Linked DNA regions of Homo sapiens. The protein of the gene in region 2 interacts with the protein of the main gene of each other region in a pairwise test. Each region holds a gene or a part of one and is shown on either strand. Other genes may lie near its edges. The genes, in order: BAG4, FARS2, APPL1, RCBTB2, STX11, GRB10 and TADA2A.

Region 1 (3,500 bases), on a different chromosome or scaffold from region 2:
TTGGCCAAATTAGACCAAAAATCAGTTGAAGTGGGGAAAGAGGAGAGGACCTCTAAACTGATGACTGACTTTTGCTGGGCCTGCTGTATTATCAAAACCAAAGTCTGTTTTCTGGCATAGAGTTAGGGAGGGTTGGATAGACTAAAGAAGTTAAGATTTTAGCATTGTGTAAGGGGTTGTCAGGTGTGGTTTGAGTACATTTGTGCCCACAGGGTGGGTGATGGTGCTGAAGTAGTTGGAGATAAAGGTGGAAATGTGTAATGGGCATTTGTAAACCATTTTAATAGTTTGTACTATCTTTCAGATTGATGATTCTGAAACTTTAAAAGTATAGGATGGTAATTTTTCTGCAGCAATAGAAAACTCATACCAAAGATATGTATGTTGGCCGGGCGTGGTGGCTCACGCCTGTAAACCCAGCACTTTGGGAGGCTGAGGCAGGTGGATCACCTGAGGTCAGGAGTTCGAGACCAGCCTGGTCAACATGGCGAAACCCCACCTCCACTAAAAACACAAAAATTAGCCAGGCATGGTGGCGCATGCCTGTAATCCCAGCTACTAGGGGCACTGAGGCAGGAGGATCATTTGAACCCGGGAGGCAGAAGTTGCAGTGAGCCGAGATCATGCCACTGCACCCCAGCCTGGGCAGCAAAGCGAGACTCCGTCTCAAAAAAAAAAAAAAAAAAAAAAAAAAGATATGCATGTTGTCACAGATGTTGCAATGTTTTTTCCAGATTTGTTATTTTGACTTTTTTTTATGTTTTGCATTTTTATAGTATACATCTGTCAAATTAAAAAAACAAACAGTATAGGAACCTTTTATAACCTTGCTACTCAAAAAGTGTGGTCCATGGACTAGAAGCCTCGGTGTCACTTGTGAGGTTGATAGAAATGCAAAATCTCTCCTCTTCCAGACTTACTGCTGCAATTTATTAAGATCCCCAGGTGATTCATATGCACATTAATATTTCAGAAGCATTGCTCTATAGAACTGATTATATTTAGATGATGTACTGAACTACAACACAGACTTGACTATATTAACACATTTAAGTATGGCAGGGAAAAAATTAGAAATCTATCACTATTTTTTTTTTTTTTTTTGAGACCGAGTTTCACTCTGTTACCCAGGCTGGAGTGCGGTGGCCTGATCTCGGCTCACCGCAAGCTCCGCCTCTTGGGTTCACGCCCTTCTCCTGCCTCAGCCTCCCGAGTAGCTGGGATTACAGGCACCCGCCACCACGCCCGGCCAATTTTTTTGTATTTTTAGTAGAGACGGAGTTTCACCGTGTCAGCCAGGATGGTATCGATCTCCTGACCTCGTGATCCGCCCGCCTTGGCTGGGATTACAGGCGTGAGCCACCGCGCCCAGCCTTTTTTTTTTTAAATTTTTTTTTGAGACGGAGTTTTGCTCTTTTTGCCCAGGCTGGAGCGCAATGGCGCCATCTTGGCTCACTGCAACCTCCACCTCCCAGGTTCAAGCGATTTACTGCCTCAGGCTCCCAAGTAGCTGGGATTACAGGCACCCGCCACCATGCCCGACTACTTTTGTATTTTTGGTACCCGGCCACTCCCTATGTTTTTTTAGAGTAAAACTTTAGGCTGGGTGCGGTGTCTCACGCCTGTAATCCCAGCACTTTGGGAGGCTGAGGCAGGCAGATCATCTGAGGTCAGGAGTTTGAGACCAGCCTGGCCAACGTGGTGAAACCCCGTCTCTACTAAAAATACAAAAATTAGCCAGGTGTGGTGGCTCACACCTGTAATCCCAGCTACTTGGGAGGCTGAGGCAGGAGAACCACTTGAACCTGGGAGATGGAGGTTGTAGTGAGCCGAGATCACACCACTGCACTCCAGCCTGGGCAACAGAGCAAGACCTTGTCCCAGAAAAAGAAAAACAAAAATTAGCCGGGCGTGGTGGCGGGCGCCTGTAATTGCAGCTAGTCTGAGAATTGCTCAAACCAGGGAGGCGGTGGTCGCAGTGACCGAGATCATGCCACGAACTCCAGCCTGGGCTGCCTAGCGAGACTATCTCAAAAAAAAAAAAAAAAAAAAAAAAAAAAAAGGAAGTAAGGGAAAAGAGTTAGAGTTGAGAAACCTTTTGAGCTAAAGGGAGAAAAGTAACAAGTTTGGAGTTGGAGCAGAGGGGCATTGACAGCTATTGGTCTCCTTTCGTGGTGGAGTAGGAAGCTAGGTCATCTTACAGTAAGGGAAGTAGAATGGGATGCTCTGCAAAATTTATGTGGTAAATGTTTGAACCAGATGCTGGGGCAAGAGGGACAACACAGAGAAGCATTTGGAAGAGATCCAAATGAGTTTGAAAAGTTAAAAAATTATGATGGTCAGTATAGGAGCATAAGGTGATTTGTTAGTGATTATGAACCATATAGCTATACAAATAACTTATGTACTTTACTAATAATTTTTGTCCAATTCTTATGAAAAATATAAGCAAATCTGTAAATGGAATTTATGTAGTACGAGTGCTACTGATTCCTCTGCTGTTAGATTTGCTTGGACTGGGGTTTCAGTTTGGGGGAATGTTGGTAAGTCATTTTGGAAAATGTAATCACATATCCACTTTAAAGGAATTGACTCCAGTCTTCAGCTGGGATTATTTATTTCTCAGAAGAAAGGAAATAAATTAGTTATCTTGCATAATTTTAATCAAATTTTCTTTGGCATAGAACTTTAATTCACATTATTGTGGCTTGTGAAAACATTTTATTACCTTTGTTTTAGTTTGTATTTCATTCAACAAATAAAAAGTTTGGAAAGAGTTAGGCACATGATAAAATTGGTAACTTAGTTTATAGAATAGAGTTCAGCTTCAGCCAGTTTCCTGTGAAACCAAATGCTATTTCATAGAATTAGTGTCATGTTGGGAGGGCCATGAGCTACAGACTTTCACTGTTACTAGGGATATTTTTAGATTTGTCCCATTTTGTCCAAAAGGAGGAAAAAAAAGACAAAGACATTATTTTTTTCCTTAAGACAATAAAATTATACTTTTTAGTGCTTCATTGAGGACATTCTTTTTTTCATTAAAAAAATTATGGCATAATTTACAAAAAGTAAATTTCACTGTCTTTAGGGTATAGTTCTGTGAGTTTTGATAAATACATACAATTACATAACCACCACCACCACCACCACCACAACTGAGCTATACATACTGACCCATCTTTTTTTTTTTTTTTTTTTTTTTTTTTAGACAGAGTCTCTCTTTGTCGCCCAGGCTGGAGTGCAGTGGCGAAATCTCGGCTCACTGCAAGCTCCGCCTCCCGGGTTCATGCCATTCTCCCACTTCAGCCTCCTGAGTAGCTGGGACCACAGGCGTCCGCCAGCAGGCCTGGCTAATTTTTTTTTGTATTTTTAGTAGAGATGGGGTTTCACCATGTTAGCCAGGATGGTCTCGATCTCCTGACCTTGTGATCCACCTGCCTCAGCCTCCCACAGTTCTGGGATTACAGGCATGAGCCACTGTGCCTGGCCACCTTTAA
Region 2 (3,500 bases):
GTCTGTTCATATCCTTCGCCCACTTTTTGATGGGGTTGTTTGATTTTTTTCTTGTAAATTTGTTTAAGTTCTTTGTAGATTCTGGATATTAGCCCTTTGTCAGATGGATAGATTGCAAAAATTTTCTCCCATTCTGTAGGTTGCCTGTTCACTCTGATGGTAGTTTCTTTTGCTGTGCAGAAGCTCTTTAGTTTAATTAGATCCCATTTGTCAATTTTGGCTTTTGTTGCCATTGCTTTTGGTGTTTTAGACACGAAGTCCTTGCCCATGCCTATGTCCTGAATGGTATTGCCTAGGTTTTCTTCTAGGGTTTTTATGGTTTTAGGTCTAACATTTAAGTCTTTAATCCATCTCACATTAATTTTTGTATAAGGTGTAAGGAAGGGATCCAGTTTCAGCTTCTACATATGGCTAGCCAGTTTTCCCAGCACCATTTATTAAATAGGGAATCCTTTCCCCATTTCTTATTTTTGTCAGGTTTGTTAAAGATCAGATGGTTGTAGATGTGTGGTATTATTTCTGAGGGCTCTGTTCTGTTCCGTTGATCTATATCTCTGTTTTGGTAACAGTACCATGCTGTTTTGGTTATTGTAGCCTGGTAGTATAGTTTGAAGTCAGGTAGCGTGATGCCTCTAGCTTTGTTCTTTTTGCTTAGGATTGACTTGGCAATGCGGGCTCTTTTTTGGGTCATATGAACTTTAAAGTAGTTTTTTCCAATTCTGTGAAGAAAGTCATTGGTAGCTTGATGGGGATGGCACTGAATCTATAAATTACCTTGGGCAGTATGGCCATTTTCACGATATTGATTCTTCCTATCCATGAGCATGGAATGTTCTTCCATTTGTTTGTGTCCTCTTTTATTTCATTGAGCAGTGGTTTGTAGTTCTCCTTGAAGAGGTCCTTCACATCCCTTGTAGGTTGGATTCCTAGGTATTAGAACTAGAAATACCATTTCACCCGGCAATCTCATTACTGGGTATATACCCAAAGGATTATAAATTATGCTCTGTAAAGACACATGCACACATGTGTTTATTGCAGCACTGTTCACAATAGCAAAGACTTGGAACCAACCCAAATGTCCATCAATGATAGACTGGATTAAGAAAATGTGGCACATATACACCATGGAATACTATGCAGCCATAAAAACGGATGAGTTCATGCCCTTTGTAGGGACATGGATGAAGCTGGAAACCATCATTCTGAGCAAACTATCGCAAGGACAGAAAACCAAACACCGCATGTTCTCACTCATAGGTGGGAATTGAACAACGAGAACACTTGGACACAGGATGGGGAACATCGCACACCGGGGCCTGTGGTGGGGTTGGGGGAGGGGGGAGGGATAGCATTAGGAGATATACCTAATGCCAGCATGGCACATGTGTACATATGTAACAAACCTGCACCTTGTGCACATGTACCCTAGAACTTAAAGTATAATAAAAAAAAAAATGAAAATAACCAAAAAAAAAAAAAGAGAAAAGAAGAGTCCTTTCATTGCTGTTTAGCAGTATCTCATTTTAGTAATTTTTCTAGTGACATATTTGAAGTTCTGATTGACTTCTTCGAATGAGTGTATTAGCCGCCATCTCTTGTTTGTTCAGGTCAGTAGGTTGTTTACAGAAAACATTTAGAATTTGCAGTGTTGAGTCTGTTTACAAAAAACAGCCTACATTTTGCTAATCACTGGAAAAATACTAGGTCAGTGTCTTAAGATGTGCAATACTGAGATCTGTGATGTTAACTGATCTCTCAGAGGATGGGTCGATACATATCGTTGATAGTATACTGTAGACTGTTATTAACAATAGAAGATATACAGAGAATTCATGATTTCTTTGGTATTATAGTGAATTACATGATTTAATATTTTATAACGTTTTAATGTAAACATTTATTTTCTGAGCACAATTGAAGCACTTCAGCCTGGCAAACTTGTAATCTGTATGTGTAATTGTGAGTTTGAGTTAACTAACAATATTTAAGAGTTATAAAAGCCTGGCTTCTGTGAAATGGATTACAGTAATATTGGCAGAGAGTAAAACAGTTAGTTTCAGTTAATGAAGATGAGTTTTTTGGGAGAATTATCTTTTTTTAAATCAATTCCTGGAATTCTGCAGTGCAAAGGGAAAGTAAAATGAAGCAGTCATGAAATAGAAAAAGCTTAGCAGGCAGCATACTTTCTTTCCTGTTTCTTGACGTTCTGAGATAAGCACATTGTTATTTATTTCAAGTCTTGGAGCACTTTGAGACAAGCACATGTGCCTGGGCATTCATAACATTAAGCCCTGTTAGGAATCCCACTTACACCCTTGGCTTCTGCGTACTGTGAGAGCTGGGCTGGATGATAATTACAGTCAGCTTTCATTTGTAGAGCCCAGGTCTTCAAATAATTTCCAAGTAAACTATCCCAGATTAATACGTTTCAGGACATAAGTGTGGTTCGCTAGAGCTGTCAAGCTGTCTGGATGCCCTTCTGTTAACTTTGTAGAAGAGATTCCACGTGTGTCAAGTTACAGTGTTTGCTGAAATTTTTCTGTTGTCTTGAAAGCTATTTGAAAATGAAATGTTCATTATAGTACTGGTGGTCAGGTATGTTCCTTAGATATATATGAATTAATGTCACCACACTATAGACAGTAATTTTTATATCACCTTCTCTCCAAAAACCTGCAGCACTTTTAGGATGAAGTCTAATTCCTTAACACAGCCTATGAGACCCTGACGACTATGGCGCTTACCCACTTCTCCAGTCCCATGTCATACCTTTTTATTTTTCGCTTGCTGCTTTTCATTCTTTAGTACTCACCTCTTTCCCCTCTACCCTGGGGACCTTTGCAAATGCTGATCCAGCTGCCTGGAGTGCCCTTCCTTCCCTTGCTAATTATTCTTCTGATCTCAGTTTAAGAGATGCTTACTCAAAGCTACCTTCTCTAACTTGAGTACATCTTCCTCTGTTAAGCTCCCTTAGTATGGTGAATTGCTCTTCAGCTTAGAGTGACTGCCATTGCAAGTAACTGAAGTCAAATTGTTTTAAACAAACCTAGTGGCTTTATTGTCTCCTGTGTCTTGAGGGTTCAGAAGCCAGATGGGCTTTAGGGTTGATTGGTTTGAGTGATGTTGCCAAAGATTCAATTTTGTGCTTTTCTCTACTTTGTCTTCTCTAACGTAAATTTTATCGTCTGGCCAGAGTCCTCTCTCTCGGTTATGGGAAACCATCAACAGTTTGGGGGCGCTTGTTTCCAAAACCTTAGAGGAGTGAGAGAGCTTCTGGACCAAGAGTGCTCAGCAGTCCTCTCCGTTCATGTCACTGGCCCTCCTTGTGTCATGTCCTCATCCATTTCTGAACCAATAACTGTGACCAGGGAGAAGATAGGATTCTTTTGGTCTTGAACCAGTTGCCTAGCTCCTAGAGATAAAGGGGAATTATTTTTTGTAAAAGGAACAAAGTTCACTAGAGCAATCTTGCCAGAGTTATATTTTTTTATTTGATT
Region 3 (3,500 bases), on a different chromosome or scaffold from region 2:
GCTAGCTTATTTAAATTCAAGAACTTTTGCAACATGGTTTATTATGTTGATTTTTTGTTGTGTATGTCTAAACTTCCAATTCATCTGTGTCTTCTAAAGTGCACCAACATTGATCAGTTAGTGTGTGAGGGCAGAGGCCTTCATCATAGTAATTTAGTGATCAATAGTGTTTCTTAATAGGATGGGGCATTTTAGAGCTTTTTTTTTTTAAATGTTAACTGTGGTTTTAATAATTAGATTTCTTCTATGTGGCTCATGGTAACTGACCATGTGTTCATATTTTCTTCTAAACTTTTTAGGCGTACAAATCCATTTGGAGAATCTGGAGGAAGTACAAAATCTGAAACTGAAGGTAAGACAGATGTGCAGCATTCATATATTTTAGAACTGCTTCTCAGCAAACTGTGAATAATTTATTGTTTATATTTGCTCTGCTACTAAGCTCAGTTTTAATGCTATCTTTACTTCAGAATTTCCTCTACTTACTTATAGTACACTTGAAGCAACAGAACTTAATCTGACTTAAGATGTTGTGATTCATACAAAACGATAGACTCTCATACTTTTGACTTTATAGTCAAATTCAGTGCCTAAGATACCTTTCAAGCTTTTCCTAACAGCTGATGTTTCTCTTCTGGTACTGGAGCATAAATTTTGTTTTTCCGCCACTAACTATTTATTTGAATTCTAAACTTACAGAAATGCTGTAAGAACCACCAGTTGTTGTGTGTTTGTGTGTGTGTGTGTGTGTTGAGACAGGGCTCCCTATGTTGCCTAGGCTGGTCTCGAACTCCTGGGCTCAAGGGATCCTCCTGCCTTAGCCTCCCAAAGTGCTAGGATTACAGGTGTGAACCACCACGCCTGGCCTCAGAACTGCCAGTTGTTGAAGCATTACTTTTAGCTATTTGAATTTGAAACCCTAATTTTCCTATAACTTGGAATACTGTAGTTAGGAGTTATTTTGAAATGTCTCCCTTAGGCTGTTGAATTTTTCACTAGAAAACCTAAAAGGAGGCAGTGTATTTTATTCTTTTGGAAAAGAAATATGGCGAAAAAAATAAAATGTAAATTTATACAGTAAAAAAAAAATATGTAATACACCTTGTTCTATTATAGATTCTATTCTTCATCAGTTATTTATTGTCCGATTCCTTGGTTCAATGGAGGTGAAATCAGATGACCATCCAGATGTTGTTTATGAAACTATGCGCCAAATCTTAGCTGCCCGGGCCATCCATAACATCTTTCGTATGACAGAATCGCATTTATTAGTCACTTGTGACTGTTTAAAGTAAGTAAAACCCTCCCTTAAAAAACTGTAGAAAAAACATTTACATGATTTCAGCCTAATTAAAATTTGTTTTCCAATTTTTAAATTATTATTTTAGGTTAATTGATCCACAGACACAAGTTACAAGGCTCACGGTGAGTTCCACATGATTTAAGCTTTGTTTTAGGTCCCTTTGTATATATACACATCTTACAACTTGATAATAATCCTGATCCTGTATATTCAAGTGTGATAGTATCAGCTATGATTGGTCTTTGGCTGTTGTAGTTAAGTCTATGGCCATCTCCAAAAAGTTGTCATTGAACATTTTATGTAACTTAAAAGAATTAACACAATTCTTTTTGTAATTTTTTTAACACAGTTCTTTTTGACTTTGTAAAATGTGTTAATGACTAATAAAACAAATGTAATATTCAACAACCTTTTTCTGCTTGTTAATTCAAACCAAATATGACATTACTTGTTTCTGCATTACAAGTCTGTTAAAATAATTGGCTTTAATATATTAAAATATTTATATTTTTAGAACTTAGCATATGAGTTTGTCACAAGTGCTGCTGTAATGACTTGTAAGATCTCATGTTTGCTTCTGATGTTTTCTGTGGCAGTTTCCATTACCTTGTGTAGTTTTGTATGCTACACACCAGGAAAATAAGCGCCTTTTTGGATTTGTTCTTCGGACATCAAGCGGGAGAAGTGAAAGTAATCTGTCATCAGTCTGCTATATATTTGAGTCAAACAATGAGGGGGAAAAGGTACATGGCTTTTCAGAATATCTCTGTCATAACCACTTACTAATTGATTCTTACTAAGATTTAATAATAATTAAATTCTTACAAATTAAATTAGTTAGTAATTACTGATTGAATTCTTTACAATTTATACAAATTTATGAGGCACATGTGAATTTTGTTACATGTATAGAATGTACAGTAAGCAAGTCAGGGTATTTAGGGTGTCCATCATCCAAGTACAATACATTTTTGTGAAGTATAGTCACCCTACTCTGCTGTCAGATATTAAATATATTCTTTCTATCGTAATTTATGGTTGTACCCTTTAATCAGCTTTTCTTCATCCTCCCCCTTTCCTCATCACTCAGCCTTCCCAGTCTCTGTTGTCTGTCATTCCACACTCTGCCTCCACGTGATCAATTTTTTGGCTCCCACATACAAGTGAGAACATGTGATATTTGTCTTTTTGTGCCTGGCTTATTTCACGTAAGATAATGACTTCTAGTTCCATCCACGTTGTTGTGAATGACATGATTTCATTCTTTTTATGGCTGAATAGTACTCCATTGTGTATATGTACCACATTTTCTTTATTCATTTATCTGTTAATGAACATTTAGATTGACTTAATATCTTTGCTATTGTGAATAGTACTACAGTAAACATGTGAGTGCAGGTATCCTTTTGATACAGATTTCTTTAATTTTGGGTAGATACCCAGTAGTGGGATTGTTGGATCGAATGGTAGTTCTATTTTTAGTTTTTGTTGTTGTTGTTGTTTTTGAGACGGAGTTTCACTCTGTCGCCCAGGCTGGAATGCAGTGGTGCGATCTTGGCTCACTGCAACCTCTGCCTCCTGGGTTCACGCCATTCTCCTGCCTCAGCCTCCCGAGTAGCTGGGATTACAGGTGCCTGCCACCATGCCCGGCTAATTTTTTGTATTTTTAGTAGAGACGGGGTTTCACCGTGTTAGCCAGGATAGTCTTGATCTCCTGACCTCGTGATCTGCCTGCCTCAGCCTCCCAAAGTGCTGGGATTACAGGCGTGAGCCACCATACCCGGTCTATTTTTAGTTTTTTGAGAGATCTCCATACTGTTTTCCATAGTGGTTGTACTAGTTTATGTTCCCACCAACAGTGTATGAGTTCCCCTTTTTTCTGCATTTCACCAACATCTGCTATTTTTTGTCTTTTTAGTGATAGCCATTCTGACTAGGGTAAGAATGGCTCATTGTCATTTTGATTTGCATTTCTCTAATGATTAGTAATGTCGAGCATCTTTTCATATACCTGTTGGCTGTTTTTGTGTCCTTTAAGAAATGCATATTCATATCCTCTGCATACTTTTAAGTGGGATTATTTGATTTTTTCCCTGTTGAGTTCGTTGTATATTCTGGATATTAGTCCCCAGTTGGATGAACAGTTTGCAAATAATTTCTCCCATTCAACAGGTTGTCTGTTTACTCTGTTATTTCT
Region 4 (3,500 bases), on a different chromosome or scaffold from region 2:
ACTAAAATGTCTCTGTTTTCTTTGACCAAAGGAGAGGATATCCTTATACCAAAAGGAAACTGACTCGAAGATGTTACAGCCTGTTTCCTAAAGATTTGGTTCTAAGATTGGTTTTCTTTCCTTTCTTTATTATCATAACAATACATGGTCACTGTAAAAGTTAAAAAAAAATAAGCAAAGAGAAGAAAATAAAAATCACCCACAATCCCACCATTCAATGATAACCACTAAGCATAGTTTTCAGTCTTTTTTTCTATGTAGATAATGAATTTTAGTTTTTTATTCAGCTATTTATACTTTTTCAAAAAATAAAAATAGGATAAGTTTTTCACTTAGTGATATATCTTGAATAGCTGCATAATTTCTTGATATTAACATTTTATAAACAAGCCTCCACTATTCACACTAACCTTTTTCTGATTTTTCAAAATTATAAACTGCTGAAGTAAACACCTTTGAAGCTAAGTCTTTGTGCAAATCCATGATTAATTCCTCAAGATAAATACTTGTGAGTGAATTCCTTGAAGAATTATGTCTTTAATTTAAGGTGCTTAATACATATTATACCAAATTGTTCTCCATACCAATTTGTACTCTCATCAGCAGTTTAGGAGAACACCATTATTCTGATCCTATACATTATCTCTAAAAATATATTCCTGCTTTGACAGGTGAAAAGTTATACCTTGTTTTCATTTATGTTTTTTGTCTATTTATAGAGCCATTTGTTCTTTGGTCCATTTCTTTCAACCAAACTGTTCCTATTGTCTTTTTGTTTTTCACTCTGGTAAACAGACTTCATTATATGTTGCAAGTATTTTTCCCAGTGTCTCATTACTTTGTAAGTTTCTCTATGGTATTTTTAAGTGGATAAAAGTTTCTTATCTTTTTAAATCAGAGCTATAAATCCTTTATGGCTTCTGCCTTTGATGTCCATCCCAACATTATATAAATACTTGCTTATACGTTGTCTAGTACTCTTGTTACTTCATTTTTTAAAAAATATTAAATATTTCCTCTACCCAGACTTTCTTTTAGTTTAAGGTACGAGGCAGACACCTGGGTTCCATTTCTCCAGGAGGCCGGCAGCTGGAAGCAAGCTTTCCTTACCTGTGCATCATACTTCACCGCAGCCGAGAGCAGAGCGATGGCATTCTCCTCGCAGATGCCTTGCTTGATAGTTTGTTGGCAGAGCTTTTTCAAACGATTTTCTCTATAAAATGTAGCCAAGTCTAGCAGTCCTGGCGGAAAGAGGTGTTTATTAGGGGGAGTGATTTCAAGCATCCTGATTTACAGTTGCTCACTCAGCCACTCAGAGATGATTTTGACACTATTTTAGATATAATCCTCAGTGAAGCACTGCATAGACTGATGCTGACTGACACTTACACTTCAGTGTGGGGCTCTACCCAGGATGGCAGCCAAGCTGAGCAAACATGATACACAAATCATTAGCTGTTGAAAAACAGGAGCACAGGGAAAATAGCTTTAATATTTTTTTCCTAGGAAAAAAGCATGTGCGCCTTGAATGACCCCTTCCCCTGCAATCTCAATGTCAGCTTCTCCTGGGCCACTCCCAGGAGCACACACACATGCTGTAAGAGTGCCCGCCGTGAAAAGAAAGAAAAGAAAAGAAGAAAAGAAAACAAAAGAGAAGAAAAGAAGAGAGGACAGGAGAGGGAGGGGAGGGGAAGGGAGGGGAGAAGAGAAGAGGGGAGGGGAGAGGAGGGGAGGGGAGAGGAGGGGAGGGGAGAGGAGGAGAGGGGAGAGGAGGGGAGGGGAGACCCTTTCATGGACACGTGTCTTCCTCCTGTTACCCTATCCCACTGCTCCTCTCTACAGCAAAACTCCTAGACAGAGCTATCTGTATCTGCTGTCTCCATTTTCCCACCTCCCATTCTGACCTCAAGCCATTACAAGCAGAACCCCATCCCCACCACTACTGCAGTCACACCCTTGGTGGTCACACCTGTGGCAGTCACAGTGGCTTTGAGGGTGCAATATTCTCTGGTTTCCTCTTACTCGACATTTACACAGAATTTGATATGGTTGATAATGCTCTCCTTAGGACACTTTGTCACTTGCTTGCATTTTTCTTCTCTTTAATTAGTTGCTCCTCAGTTCTCTAGGCTGGATCATTTTTCCTGACTTCCAAATGTTTGAGTGCCCCAGGGTTAAATCCTCAGACACTTTCCTCACTTACTTCCCAAAACCCCAGCCCCAGGGTTTTAAATATCATCTATATATGCAGGTGAGTCCTGTTATATTACCTGTCACCTATTTTCAAGTAATTCAACGTAGACTGGGTGAGGTGACATATGTAAATTAATTTTAATCTACCCCAAGGAATGATAGGAAGTACTCTAATTGAAGCAGTCAATCAGCATCTGAAAGATCCTATTTGTTTTTCTGAATCTTCATTACAGGATTTGTAATTAGCATAAAGAATGTCAGAATTAGTTTGTCATTGCTGAAATGAGTGGTAGCCAGGATCAAAAGGCTAGCTGAATCCGGCTACTAGAACACTGTCATGTCCACCTCAAGCTAACTTTTCATGCAAGGTACTTAATAGAGTGTACGAAGTATAAAGAGCAGGGATTTCATCAATTTTACCATATTAATTGTTTTTGTGTCTATCTGCTAATAAATCTTATACATGTGGTAGACTTTGGTTGGAAACTTGCTTTTTTAATAACAAATATTATCAAAGTTATAGAGGAAAGACAGATAGCCCACTGGAGGACACTGAAATCTTGAGTTGTGAATGGCTTCATTGTTTTTGGCCCCAAGCTTCAGACACACATGCAAGCTGCACTGCCCTAAGAGAGGACTCTGCCCCAAGCCCCAGCTCTGCGCCTCCTCCACGCACACCTTCAGCACAGGGTGGCTAAGGAGCCACATGCCCACTTCTAGACCACACTTTGGGTACCTGGGAACCTGGGACTGCCTGCATAATTGGCCTTGAGGCCACATGTGTGGGTATTTCCTCCCTTAGACCCCACCACCAATGTGCAGACCCCCTGGCCCAAAAGGGTAACCTGGGTTGGGGGTGGATAGAGCTTGGAATGCAAGCTAGGGTGCCCACACACCCTTCTGCTGGAGGAGGGGTCTGTCCTGCCTGTGCCATTGGGTTCTGGCACAAGAAGTCCTGCAACTCTAAATGTCAACTAAAATTGAAACCTGTCCTTTCAGTTCTTAATGAAATTACATTTTTCAAGGTGGGAGGATTGGACATATTTTTATCTGAAGTTCACTAGCTTGACATATAACTTTAAGTTTTTAGACATATGGAACATAGGTCTCCATTTGGAGTCTTGGCTACAGCCCCACAAATGTTAGTGGTGGGCCGATAAAAAACTGCCACTCGCGGCCGGGCGCAGTGGCTCACGCCTGTAATCCCAGCACTTTGGGAGGCCAAGATGGGCGGATCACCTGAGGTCGGGAGTTCAAGACCAGCCTGACCAACACGGAGAAACCTCGTTTCTACTAAAAATACAAAA
Region 5 (3,500 bases), about 140 Mb from region 2:
AATGCAGAGGCCTGCTACATGATGCTGTCAGGACTTGACTGAAAGGCGCAAGTTCAGTGTCTCAGGTCAAGTTGCCAGGAAACAGACCCTGAGACTCTGAGATTTCCATACAGGAGGTTTTTATTGGGAAGTGCTCTGGGCACAATACACAGTAGGAGAGAGGGAAACGGGATTGCACAGGGGGAGAGACTGAACTGTGGGGCATGCACAACAGCGGCCTCAACAGGGAGGAGCTTGGAAGCTGGGATTGTTGTTCAGAATTGTTCTGCCTCCTGAGGCAAGAGGCTCAGCATTTGTACCTACATCAACTAATCATTGGATGCAGGCAGCAGCTCCCTTCAGTCCAGGGCAATTTCTGGAACTGGGAGCCTTCAGCAGCCAACCTTCCTAGTACCTGGGGGACTGAGGATCTTGGTCCAGAAGGGGATCTGGATACCACATCATTTACTACATTTGTAGCCAAGAGAGCATTCTCCTCTGCAACAGCCTTGTTTGTGTCTGATGGCCCAGACCATCACCTTGCAGAGTGGAGCCCAGAAAGTTGTCATTTTTTTCCAAGGCCCTTAAGGATTTTAGAATAGTTGACCAGAGAGCAAGAAGACAAAGTAGTCTTAATCCTAAGAAGATTAGGAGCAGAAGAGCCAGGGAGAGTAGGCCGTGGTGAGGGCAGTAGTGGTGTTTAACAAAGAAGGCTAAACTCTGGCACCCAGAGTGGCTAAACTCAGCCACCCAAACAGCTGTGGCTATCCAGACCCAGAACAAAAGCATAACACACACCAGTCCTTGCTGTAATGCTAGGCTTTAACATTGTTAAATGTTGAACAATTTTGTGATATTAGGGTTCCCCCCGCTCTCTCTCTCGCTCTCTCTTTCAAGCCCTTGAAAGTCCTCAAACCAGTCCAGTGTGTAGTCTGTAGATTATAACCTTCAGAATTACCAAAGATATTTCAGTACAAAAAAAAAACAGGGGAAAAACAAAAAAAAAAGAAAAGAGAAATAAAAGTCCAGGGCCCCATTCTAGATCCACTGGAATAGAATCCAGGGGTGGAACCCATGAATTGACATTTTCAACACATTTTCCCCAGAAGATTTTGATACATGCTATAGTTTGAGAACCTTCACCCTAAACTCTTATGCCTTTCGTGGTGACCAACTCTATTGAGATTTTTTCAGATTATCCAGAAGTCATGGGAACCGTGGGACAGCAGAGGAGCACCGGAGCCTTAGTCCCAGCAGGCCTGGTATAGTGAGAGTCATCCCTTGCTTTTCATTTAAATTCTTGATGTGGCCAACAGACAGCACAGCCCAAATTCCTTTGCTGGCTTCTGACCAAGATTGCAAGAGGGAGAGTGGTGTCCCTGGCTTGGCCTTATACTATCTTAGATAGCAGAGTGAGAGATGCCAAATTTTTTGAATAGTTGCAGATGGGGGATGGGAATCAGTGAACTTAGAGGAATCAGTAAACTTTCTAGGAGAATAAGAAGGTTTCAGGATATCTTATGCCAGAGGAAGCTTTGAGGTGCTTTTTTTTAAACTTTAATAATTGTCTAATAAGATCAGAGATAACTTACAGGATAATGTTAAGCATTCATAAATGTAGGATGGATTTCTAGGAGAATAAGAAGGTTTTAGGATATCTTATGCCAGAGGAAGCTTTGAGGTGCTTTCTTAAAACTTTAATAATTGTCTAATGAGATCAGAGATAACTTACAGGAGAATGTTAAGCATTCATAAATGTAGGATGGTATATTATCTGATTCACTGACATTGGCAATGATTTTTTCTTCAAAGGGAAAAGCACTTTTAAGCCTACCAATTTTTACTCCTGAAACACCAAATTGCTGTGTTTCTTACACTTTCCAGGCTTCATGCCTTTGCTGAAGTTGTCTGTGCCTGGGTCCCTTTCCCTTCTCCCTACCAAGCTAACTCCTTTTAAACCTTTTAGGATCAGCTCAGACACCACCTTCCCTGCCCTGTGGCCAGACTGACTTCTCAAAGTATTCCCATAGATCCCTCTATTATGGCATTTATTATCATTATTCTCTCTAACAGCCTGTAAGAGCAAGAACAGTCTTTTTCATTTTTGTGTATGAGAGACCTAGCCTCATCAAAAATGAGTGAAAAAAATAACGATTCTGGTGAGCGTATTTATTCAACAACTATTTATCGAGGCTTTCCTATATGCCGGGTGCTCTGGAGTAAATGGTGCAGACACAACAGGTACAGCTCCTGACCCTATGAAGCTTATGGGCAAGCAGAGAAGATAAGTAACAATTGAATATGTTATCAAACAACTACCAATAAAATATGGTGAGTACCAGAAAAAGCGAAGTGAAATTATAGAGCTGGAAACCCAGCCTAGTCTAAGGTCAGAGGAAGTGTCTCATTTTCCTGAAATATAAGTTATATCAAAATAGAAGTTACGGATTTGGCTTTGGTTACAAGAGACTACTTTTTAACAAAGGAAGATCTTTTGGTTGAGCTAGTTCAAAATTGACTCTGTGTGTGTGTGTGTGTGTGTCCGTCCAGTATGTGGAAAAAGACAGTACAGGAAAATGACGCCTTCATTTAATGAGGTAAAATAGGTAACAAGGAACGGAGAGGGAAGTTTCTGTGTGTCTCATTCAATGCACCATTACTAGAAGTTACTTTGTTAATATTTTAATATGTAATATACAGTGGAAGAAAATAAATGTAAAGCTCTGAAAATCATGAACTTACATCACAGCCTTTTAAAAATTAATCTCAAGGATCTGATTACTACGGCCTAGGAGGGTGCTTGACAGATTTGCTTTTGGGTCTTGTTGGAGACAGTGGGTGAAGTGCATTGCCCCAGAAGTCCATGCCCACTGAGGTTTCTCATCTTTCCAGGTCACTTTTGATGCCCTGGGTGAAGAGGCCACAACCCCAGTGTTGCAATTTGCAACCTCCACCCAGCTTGGTGGCTCATGCTGGGTCCTTTTTCTCCTTTTCTGGCCAGTTCTTGTTTTTTAAAAAAATATTATGATTTTTGAGAGACTCTGTCGCCCAGGCTGGAATGAAATGGCACAATCTCTGCTCACAGTAACCTCCGCCTCCCGGGTTCAAGTGATTCTCCTGCCTCAGCTTCCTAAGTAGCTAGGACTACAGGTGTGCACCACCACACCCAGCTAATTTTTGTATTTTTTTAGTAGAGACGGGGTTTCACTATATTTGGCCAGGCTGGTCTCGAACTCCTGACCTCAGGTGAACCGCCTGCCTCAGCCTACCAAAGTGCTGGGATTACAGGAGTGAGCCACTGTGCCTGGCCTTTTTAAAAATTATTTTTGTACCTCCTTATTTCTCCCCATAAATTGTAAGCTTAGGGTAAGGTTTGAGACTTCCTGATTTTTAACTTTTGAAGCTTTGCAGCTCTTCTGCTGCAATTTATTTACATTTATTATATTCAATAGATAAAGGACCTTAAGTTTAATATATAAGTTAACAGGCAAATCTTGGGTTGAAAAAGTACCAGATTCGTT
Region 6 (3,500 bases), on a different chromosome or scaffold from region 2:
GTAAAAAAAAAAAAAAATTAGCGGAGTGTGGTGGTGTGCACTTAGCCCCAGCTACTCAAGGGGACTGAAGTGGGAAGATCACTTGAGTCTGGGAGGTCAAGGCTACAGTGAGCCATGATTCTGCTGCTGCGCTCTAGCCTGCGTGACAGAATGAGACCCTGTTTCCAAAAAAGAAAAGGAAGCAGAATTTAAGGATATGGAAAATTTTTAGCTTGCCCAGGTTGTAAAAACATGTTTGGGAGAAAACACTAAGGGTGTGGCCAAGTGACCTTTTGATAAGGAGATTAGTATGGATAGAAGGAAGCCAGATGCTATTCATCAAGATAATGGAAGAATGATCCTGAAGGCATTTCAGAGATTATCAGTGCTGCCCCTCCCATCAGAGGCCCAGAGTACCAAGGCCCAGGGAACAGAACTTATGTCAAAGGAGAGGCCTTGGGCGTCTGCAGGACCTCAGCATTCACTGCCTGGCATCACTTCTCTGCTCTCTGCATTACAGTGCAGCCCTCCTTGGATATCCCAGCTGTAGCTCAAGGGGGCTCAAGTGCAGCTAGTTCCATTGCTGTGGAAGGCACAGGGCATAAGCCTAGGTGGCATCCACATGGCGCTAAGTCTGCAAGTATGCAGAGTGCAAGAGCTGTGGATGCATGGCTACCTTCACCTAGATTTGAAAGGATGCCTCAGAGAGTCTTGGGCTCAGACAGAGAATTGCTGCAGGATAGGTCTGCTGCAGAGACTCCCTGCTAGGATAATGCCTAATAGAGCCATGGGGCAGGAGTGCCAAAAAGAGCCCCCACTAGGGCAATGTCCAGCAGAGTCTTGAGGCTGGGGGCACACTAGCGAGCTCCCACAAGGACAATGCCTAATGGAGCTGTGGGGGTGGGGCTGCCCTCGAGAGCCTGTAACTGTAGAGTTACCCGTGTGTAGTGCCAGCCTGGGAGAGCTGCAGGTACCCAACTGCAACCTGTGAGAGCTGCTATGAGGGCTGTGCCCAGCAGTTGGCTGCAGGGCTGCCCAGGTCCTTGGGAACCCAACTCCTGCCCCATTGTGTCTGGAAGGCAGGACATGGAACCAAAGATTTATTCTCCAGCCTTACCATTGATTTAATGTTTGTCCTGTTTGGTTTTGGATTTGGTTGGGAAATGTTACCTCTTTTTTCTTTCCTATTTCTCCCTTTTGTAATGGGAATGTCTGTTCTTTGTCTGTTCCACTGTTTTTTTTTGTTTTTTTTTTTTGGAGACAGGATCTCACTGTGTCATTCAGGCTGGAGTACAGTGGTGTGATCTCGGCTCACTGCAACCTCTGCCTCCTGGGCTCAAGCTATCTTCCCACTTCAGCCTGCTGAGTAGCTGGGACTACAGGCGTGTGCCATCACGCCCAGCTAGTTTTTTTTTTTGTTTTGTTTTGTTTTTGGTATTAGAGATGGGGTTTTGCCATGTTGCCCAGGCTGGTCTCGACCTCCTGGGCTCAAGAAGTCCGGCCGCCTCAACCTCCGACAGTGCTGAGATTACAGGAGTGAGCCACTGCTGAAGTCTGAAGTACTTTGCCTCAGGTTGAAACACATCTTTGAGTCTCACATGTCTGATTTAGATGAAATTTTAGACTTCAGACTTTTGAATTGATCCTGGCCTGAGATAAGACATTGGGGCTATTGGGATGGAATGAATGTATTTTGTATGTGAGAAAGACATAAATTTGGGGGACTTGGGGTGGAATGCCATGGTTTGAATGTTTGTGTCTCCTTATGGCCTTATCACTTCCCCAACGCAACTCTATTAAGAGGTATGGCTTTTGGGAAGTGATAAGGTCATGAGGGCTCCAGTCCCATGAATGGATTCTTGCCCCCATCAAAGGGCTGGAGAGAACTAGCTAGGATCCCCTTTTTGCACTTCTGCATTCTGCCATGTGAGGGCACAGCAAGAAGGCCCTCACCAGACACCAAGTGCTGGCATCTTGATCTTGAACTTCCCAGCTTCTAGAACTGTGAGAAATAGATTTTGTTCTTTATAAGTTATCCAGTCTCAAGTATTTTGTTATAACTGCAGAAATGAATAAACACACACACATACATTGTATATAGTGTTCAATTAATATATTCACAGCTATGTGCAACCGCCACCATAGTCAATTTTAGAACAAAAAGAGACCCTGCACCCTTTAGCTATCATACCCCCACTCCCTGCCATCCCATTGCTCCCCCTGCTTTCCCAACCCTAAGGAACTCTACTTTCTGTCTGCATAGATTTCCCTGTCCAGGACATTTCATGTGAATAGAATCGTCTGTGGTTTTTGTGAGTGTCTTCTTTCACTTAGCATAATGTTTTCATGGTTAATCTATGTTGTAGCATGCATTAGTACTTCATTCCTTTTTATGGCTGAATAATATTCCCTTGTATGTGTAGTCCCAGCTGCTTGGGAGGTTGAGGCAGGAGAATGGCATGAACCCGGGAGGCGGAGCTTGCAGTGAGCTGAGATCACGCCACTGCACTCCAGCCTGGGTGATAGAGCGAGACTTCGTCTCAAAATAAATAAATAAATAAACAAACAAATAAATTCCCTTGTATGTATATACTACTTTTTGTTTATTCAACTGTTGATGGACATTTATGTTTCTACCTTTTGGGTATTGTGAATAATGCTTCTGTAAACATTGGTGTATAACTATCTTTGAGTACTTGCTTTCCATGTTTTTGTATATATGTCTAGATTATAATTGCTTCATTATATGGTAATTCTATGCTTAGCTTTTTGAGGAACTGCCAAACTGTTTTCTAGAGCAGCTGCACCATTTTACATTCCCAATAATAATGCACAAGGGTTTCAGTTTCTCCACATTCTTGCCAACACTTGGCATTTTTCGTTTCCTGTCCTCTCCTCTCCTCTCCTCTCCCCTCCCCTCCCCTCCCCTCCCCTGCCTTCCCCTCCCCTGCCTTCCCCTCCCCTCCCTTCCCCTTTCTCCCCTTCCCCTTCCCTTCCCCGTCCCCTTCCCCTTCCCCTTCCCTTCCCCTTCCCTTCCCATTCCGCTTCCTCTTCCCTTGCCTTTCTTCCCCTTCCCCTTCCCCTTTCTTTCCTTATAGCTGTCCTAATAGGTGTTACATCGTTTGGCTGTGTCCCAAATCTCATCTTGAATTGTAGCTCCCATAATTTCCACATGCTATGGGAGGGACCTGGTGGGAGGTAATTGAATCACGGGGTTGGGTCTTTCCCATGCTATTCTAGTGATAGTGAATAAGTCTCATGAGATCTGATGGTTTTATAAAGGGGAGTTTCTCTGCACAAGTTCTCTTCTCTTGTCTGCCACCATGTGAGACATGCCTTTCACCTTCTGTCATGATTTTGAGGCCTCCTCAGCCACGTGGAAATATGAGTCCATTAAACTTCTTTCTTTTGTAAATTGCCCAGTTCTCTGATATGTCTTTATCAGCAGCATGAAAACGGACTAATACAAGGCATCAGATGATTGCTCATTGTGGTTTTGATTTGCTTTTTGTTACTCAGTT
Region 7 (3,500 bases), on a different chromosome or scaffold from region 2:
TGAGAATCCAAGTGTCTGTGCATTCTGCCCCCACTGTGCCCCATGGCTCTTCCCTGACCATTGGTGCTGGGACTGTACCTGGGCATTTAGTGTTTGACTCCTGAAAGAGCCAGGCTGCTCCTCAGGAGCACATAGTTGTAAATCCCTAACAAACCCAGGCCCCTGAGCCAGCTGGCATGTGCTAAAGGCTCTTCTAGTATCACACCCTGGCTTTCTCTTCCTGGGTGTGTGTCCTTAGGGAGTGTTCTCTCCAGAGAGGAAGAGACTAAATGGAATGTAGTCCAGCCACCCATCAGCTCCTATAAATAGTTGGAGGTTGATGTCACTTTAAAAAATTTTTTGCTATACCTGCTGGATTAAATTACAAAAATGACAGATGTTAATGTTTATTAAATTTGCCGTGTCTTGCAGCTCTGTCAGATGGTGAGGTTGGTCCCTGGAGCCTATTTAGAATACAAATCTGCTCTATTGAACGAATGTAACAAGCAAGGAGGCTTAAGACTGGCGCAGGCAAGAGCACTCATCAAGATAGATGTGAACAAAACCCGGAAAATCTATGATTTCCTCATCAGAGAAGGATACATCACTAAAGGCTAAGGCTCCAAGAGCTTGGGATCAGAAGTCAGAAGTTTGGAATGTGGTGGGTCAAAGGACAATATGGGTGGGCATTCTGGAGAGTTGTTTTTCAGCTGAATTCTCATGGTGAAAACAGGGGAAAGGACAAAGGAAACCTTAAGTTGTATTGTCTACTTTCTTCTCCATCCTGCTTTAAAACACTCCTGTTGTTGGTATTATGCTGCAGAGTTGTGTGCTACATAAGCTATTATTAAATGTGAGTGGGCATTCATTCCTAACACCTCTTGTAACTAAAAGAACCATAGTACCTCACATCACAGTGCTGGTAGAAATGGAACTAAACCACAGTCTGTAATCCCAGGAGTCCAGCTCAGATCCTTATATTGCGAGGTAAGTTTGCTGATTATCTGTCTTGCCTTCAAACACTGCAGACAGATTTAAAATAAAGAGAAAGGTTTTAGAGCATAAGAAAGCTCTCGTTGAAGGATTTTTTAAGCTGACAACTTTTTTTTTTTTTTTTTGAGACAGAGTTTGCTCTTGTCCTCCAGGCTGGAGTGTGATGGCAAGATCTCAGCTCACTACAACCTCTGCCTCCCAGGTTCAAGTGATTCTCCTGCCTCAGCCTCCCGAATAGCTGGGACTACAGGTGTCCACCACCACACCTGGCTAATTTTGTATTTTTAGTAGAGACAGGGTTTTGTCATGTTGGCCAGGCTGGTCACAAACTCCTGACCTCAGGTGATCTGCCCGCCTCAGCCTCCCAAAGTACTAGGATTACAGGCGTGAGCCATCGCGCCCGGCCTAAGCTGACAACTTTTATGAGTAAAGGGGAAGAAAATATCCTTATGATGGTCTTATCCCAAACTGCATCTTTAACTTCGGCCGGGCAAGGTGGCTCACCTGTAATCCCAGCACTTTGGGAGGCTAAGGTGGGCGGATCACGAAGTCAGGAGTTCAAGACCAGCCTGACCAACATGGTGAAACAGTCTCTACTAAAAATACAAAAATTAGCTGAGTGTGGTGGCACACGCCTGTAATCCCAGCTACTCAGGAGGCTGAGGCAGGAGAATTGCTTGAACACAGGAGGCAGAGGTTGCAGCGAGCTGAGATCACGCCACTGTGCTCCAGCCTGGGCAACAAAGTGAGACTCTGTCTCAAAAAAAAAAAAACAAAAAAAAACCTTTAATGTCTGGCTTTGTACTTTGCAGTCTGCCTGTCTAATCTGCAGTAGTCTTTTGAGGAGGTGGCACCGGATATAACATGTCTCTGTTATTTTTAGAATTAATTAAAATGTTTTGCTATTTAATTTGTGGGTGTGTCAAATATTCTGGTAACTGAAACACACTTAAGGTGTTGGATGCCTGCCCCATCACGCTGCACTGTCTGCTGTCACATGTGTCCTGAACTCACCCTGTTTTTGCCCTGGGTTTCCCAGGATACCAAGCCCCTGAGGATGGAGATGATGCAACAAACCTCAGCTTTGCTTGGATTGTGACTTGAACCCTATTTCTCAATGGTGAAAGGCTAGCCTGCAATAAAAGCTGCTTTTAAAACAGAAGTAAAGCAGCTTTATATATGGGACTCACTAGATATGAGGGTAAGTAGCCCCACCACATGTAAAACTTGGTCCTCAAACGTTTCTGCAGAATAAGAAGCCAAACTTATGGTTATCTTGTTTCTGTTAGAAACAAAGTTGTATATAGAAATAACTTCGTCAGAATCGACACAAATCACATCGAATAGTTGACTGTTTAATTCCTTCTACATTCAAATATCTAATTAAAATACTGTGTGCTTTGTTGGAAGCATCTGCTCAAACTTTTGACTGTTGTAAATATGCATGCAGCTGGGAAGGGATTCATCTAAGGGATAAGAAATGAAAAAGACACTCTAAGGACCTGAGGGAATTCAAATAGAGGACTTCGATTTTTTAAAAAGAATGACGTGGAAATGACCTGTTTTCCTTGTAAAATCATATCTCGTAGAAAACATTTTACCACTACCATCACCCCTAGTTGGTTGTGAAGTGATTGCCTCTTATCCCTGAAAGGAAACTCCTGTTCTGAAAAGTTGGGATGCATTAGCCATCAGTGTTAGGTGACGTCTGTTGTAGTCTGAAGAGTCCTTAACCTTGATTAAGGAAGGCTTCCTGGGAGAGGTGGGCTTTTGGGGCAATTATATGATAGAGAAGAGAGAGAAAAATGGCAGATGGAAGTGGGAGACAATTCCACACACAGGGGGTGGAGAATGATGTGGAGGCAGCAGTGGGTGTAAGGACAATGGTGCCAAGAGATTTATTTGGCTAGAACACAAGGGGCAGCTGGGTAGTTAGGAGTGGGAGGATGGTAGGACAGTCTGACAGAAACCTTGGAAACAGTTGAACTCTGAAAAGCTGATGGCAAATCAGATTTCATGAGGAAAATGGCATGGTTGAAAATAGTAATAGAAAAATAAGACTGAAGTTTTAAATGACTGGATTTTTGAAAGTAGGATTATTATTTCTTTGGTATACCGAACTTTGCAAAGATACGTAGCATTGCATCCTTCCTCTTTGCTTCTAGACAGGGTTGGCCATAAACCAACTACACTGATAGAGGTCTCTCCAGATTGTCTCAGAAGAGAGAGTTTACCCTGAAACTTAATGACATGAATAAAACCTGTTTACTGAAATTTTTATTGCAATTTAACGTTAAAAGTTTCTGCTGGAGTTTTATGCATATTTTTCTCTCTAAGTGGTGGGAAATAAAGAACAAATCTCTTTCCATGTAATGACTCTTCTCTGTGCTCAAAGACCAAGACTCTGTCTCTTGCGATACCAATTAATACTAAATATTCAGTTTATCTTTTCCTGGGTCCCAGTTTCTTTCCTTTTATTGTTAACCGTCTTCACTTCCCCCGCTTTTAAAAATCTGAACTCAGTTAAG

What was found.
Region 1: the proteins of FARS2 (region 2) and BAG4 interact in binary tests that used the Homo sapiens proteins (3 or more experiments, as listed by UniProt).
Region 3: the proteins of FARS2 (region 2) and APPL1 interact in binary tests that used the Homo sapiens proteins (3 or more experiments, as listed by UniProt).
Region 4: the proteins of FARS2 (region 2) and RCBTB2 interact in binary tests that used the Homo sapiens proteins (3 or more experiments, as listed by UniProt).
Region 5: the proteins of FARS2 (region 2) and STX11 interact in binary tests that used the Homo sapiens proteins (3 or more experiments, as listed by UniProt).
Region 6: the proteins of FARS2 (region 2) and GRB10 interact in binary tests that used the Homo sapiens proteins (3 or more experiments, as listed by UniProt).
Region 7: the proteins of FARS2 (region 2) and TADA2A interact in binary tests that used the Homo sapiens proteins (3 or more experiments, as listed by UniProt).

Annotation. Positions count from the first base shown.
Region 1 is NC_000008.11:38,179,855-38,183,354, forward strand, and holds part of BAG4 (BAG family molecular chaperone regulator 4), read left to right. Parts: intron 1-3,500. UniProt on the Homo sapiens protein: Inhibits the chaperone activity of HSP70/HSC70 by promoting substrate release. Prevents constitutive TNFRSF1A signaling. Negative regulator of PRKN translocation to damaged mitochondria.
Region 2 is NC_000006.12:5,268,013-5,271,512, forward strand, and holds part of FARS2 (phenylalanine--tRNA ligase, mitochondrial), read left to right. Parts: intron 1-3,500. UniProt on the Homo sapiens protein: Is responsible for the charging of tRNA(Phe) with phenylalanine in mitochondrial translation.
Region 3 is NC_000003.12:57,258,729-57,262,228, forward strand, and holds part of APPL1 (DCC-interacting protein 13-alpha), read left to right. Parts: intron 1-299; coding exon 300-352; intron 353-1,116; coding exon 1,117-1,291; intron 1,292-1,388; coding exon 1,389-1,425; intron 1,426-1,899; coding exon 1,900-2,046; intron 2,047-3,500. UniProt on the Homo sapiens protein: Multifunctional adapter protein that binds to various membrane receptors, nuclear factors and signaling proteins to regulate many processes, such as cell proliferation, immune response, endosomal trafficking and cell metabolism.
Region 4 is NC_000013.11:48,495,081-48,498,580, forward strand, and holds part of RCBTB2 (RCC1 and BTB domain-containing protein 2), read right to left. Parts: intron 1,242-3,500; coding exon 1,111-1,241; intron 1-1,110.
Region 5 is NC_000006.12:144,157,017-144,160,516, forward strand, and holds part of STX11 (syntaxin-11), read left to right. Parts: intron 1-3,500. UniProt on the Homo sapiens protein: SNARE that acts to regulate protein transport between late endosomes and the trans-Golgi network.
Region 6 is NC_000007.14:50,772,897-50,776,396, reverse strand, and holds part of GRB10 (growth factor receptor-bound protein 10), read left to right. Parts: intron 1-1,236; exon of another isoform or gene 1,237-3,500.
Region 7 is NC_000017.11:37,476,386-37,479,885, forward strand, and holds the end of TADA2A (transcriptional adapter 2-alpha), read left to right. Parts: intron 1-411; coding exon 412-597; 3' UTR 598-3,340; downstream 3,341-3,500. UniProt on the Homo sapiens protein: Component of the ATAC complex, a complex with histone acetyltransferase activity on histones H3 and H4. Required for the function of some acidic activation domains, which activate transcription from a distant site. Binds double-stranded DNA.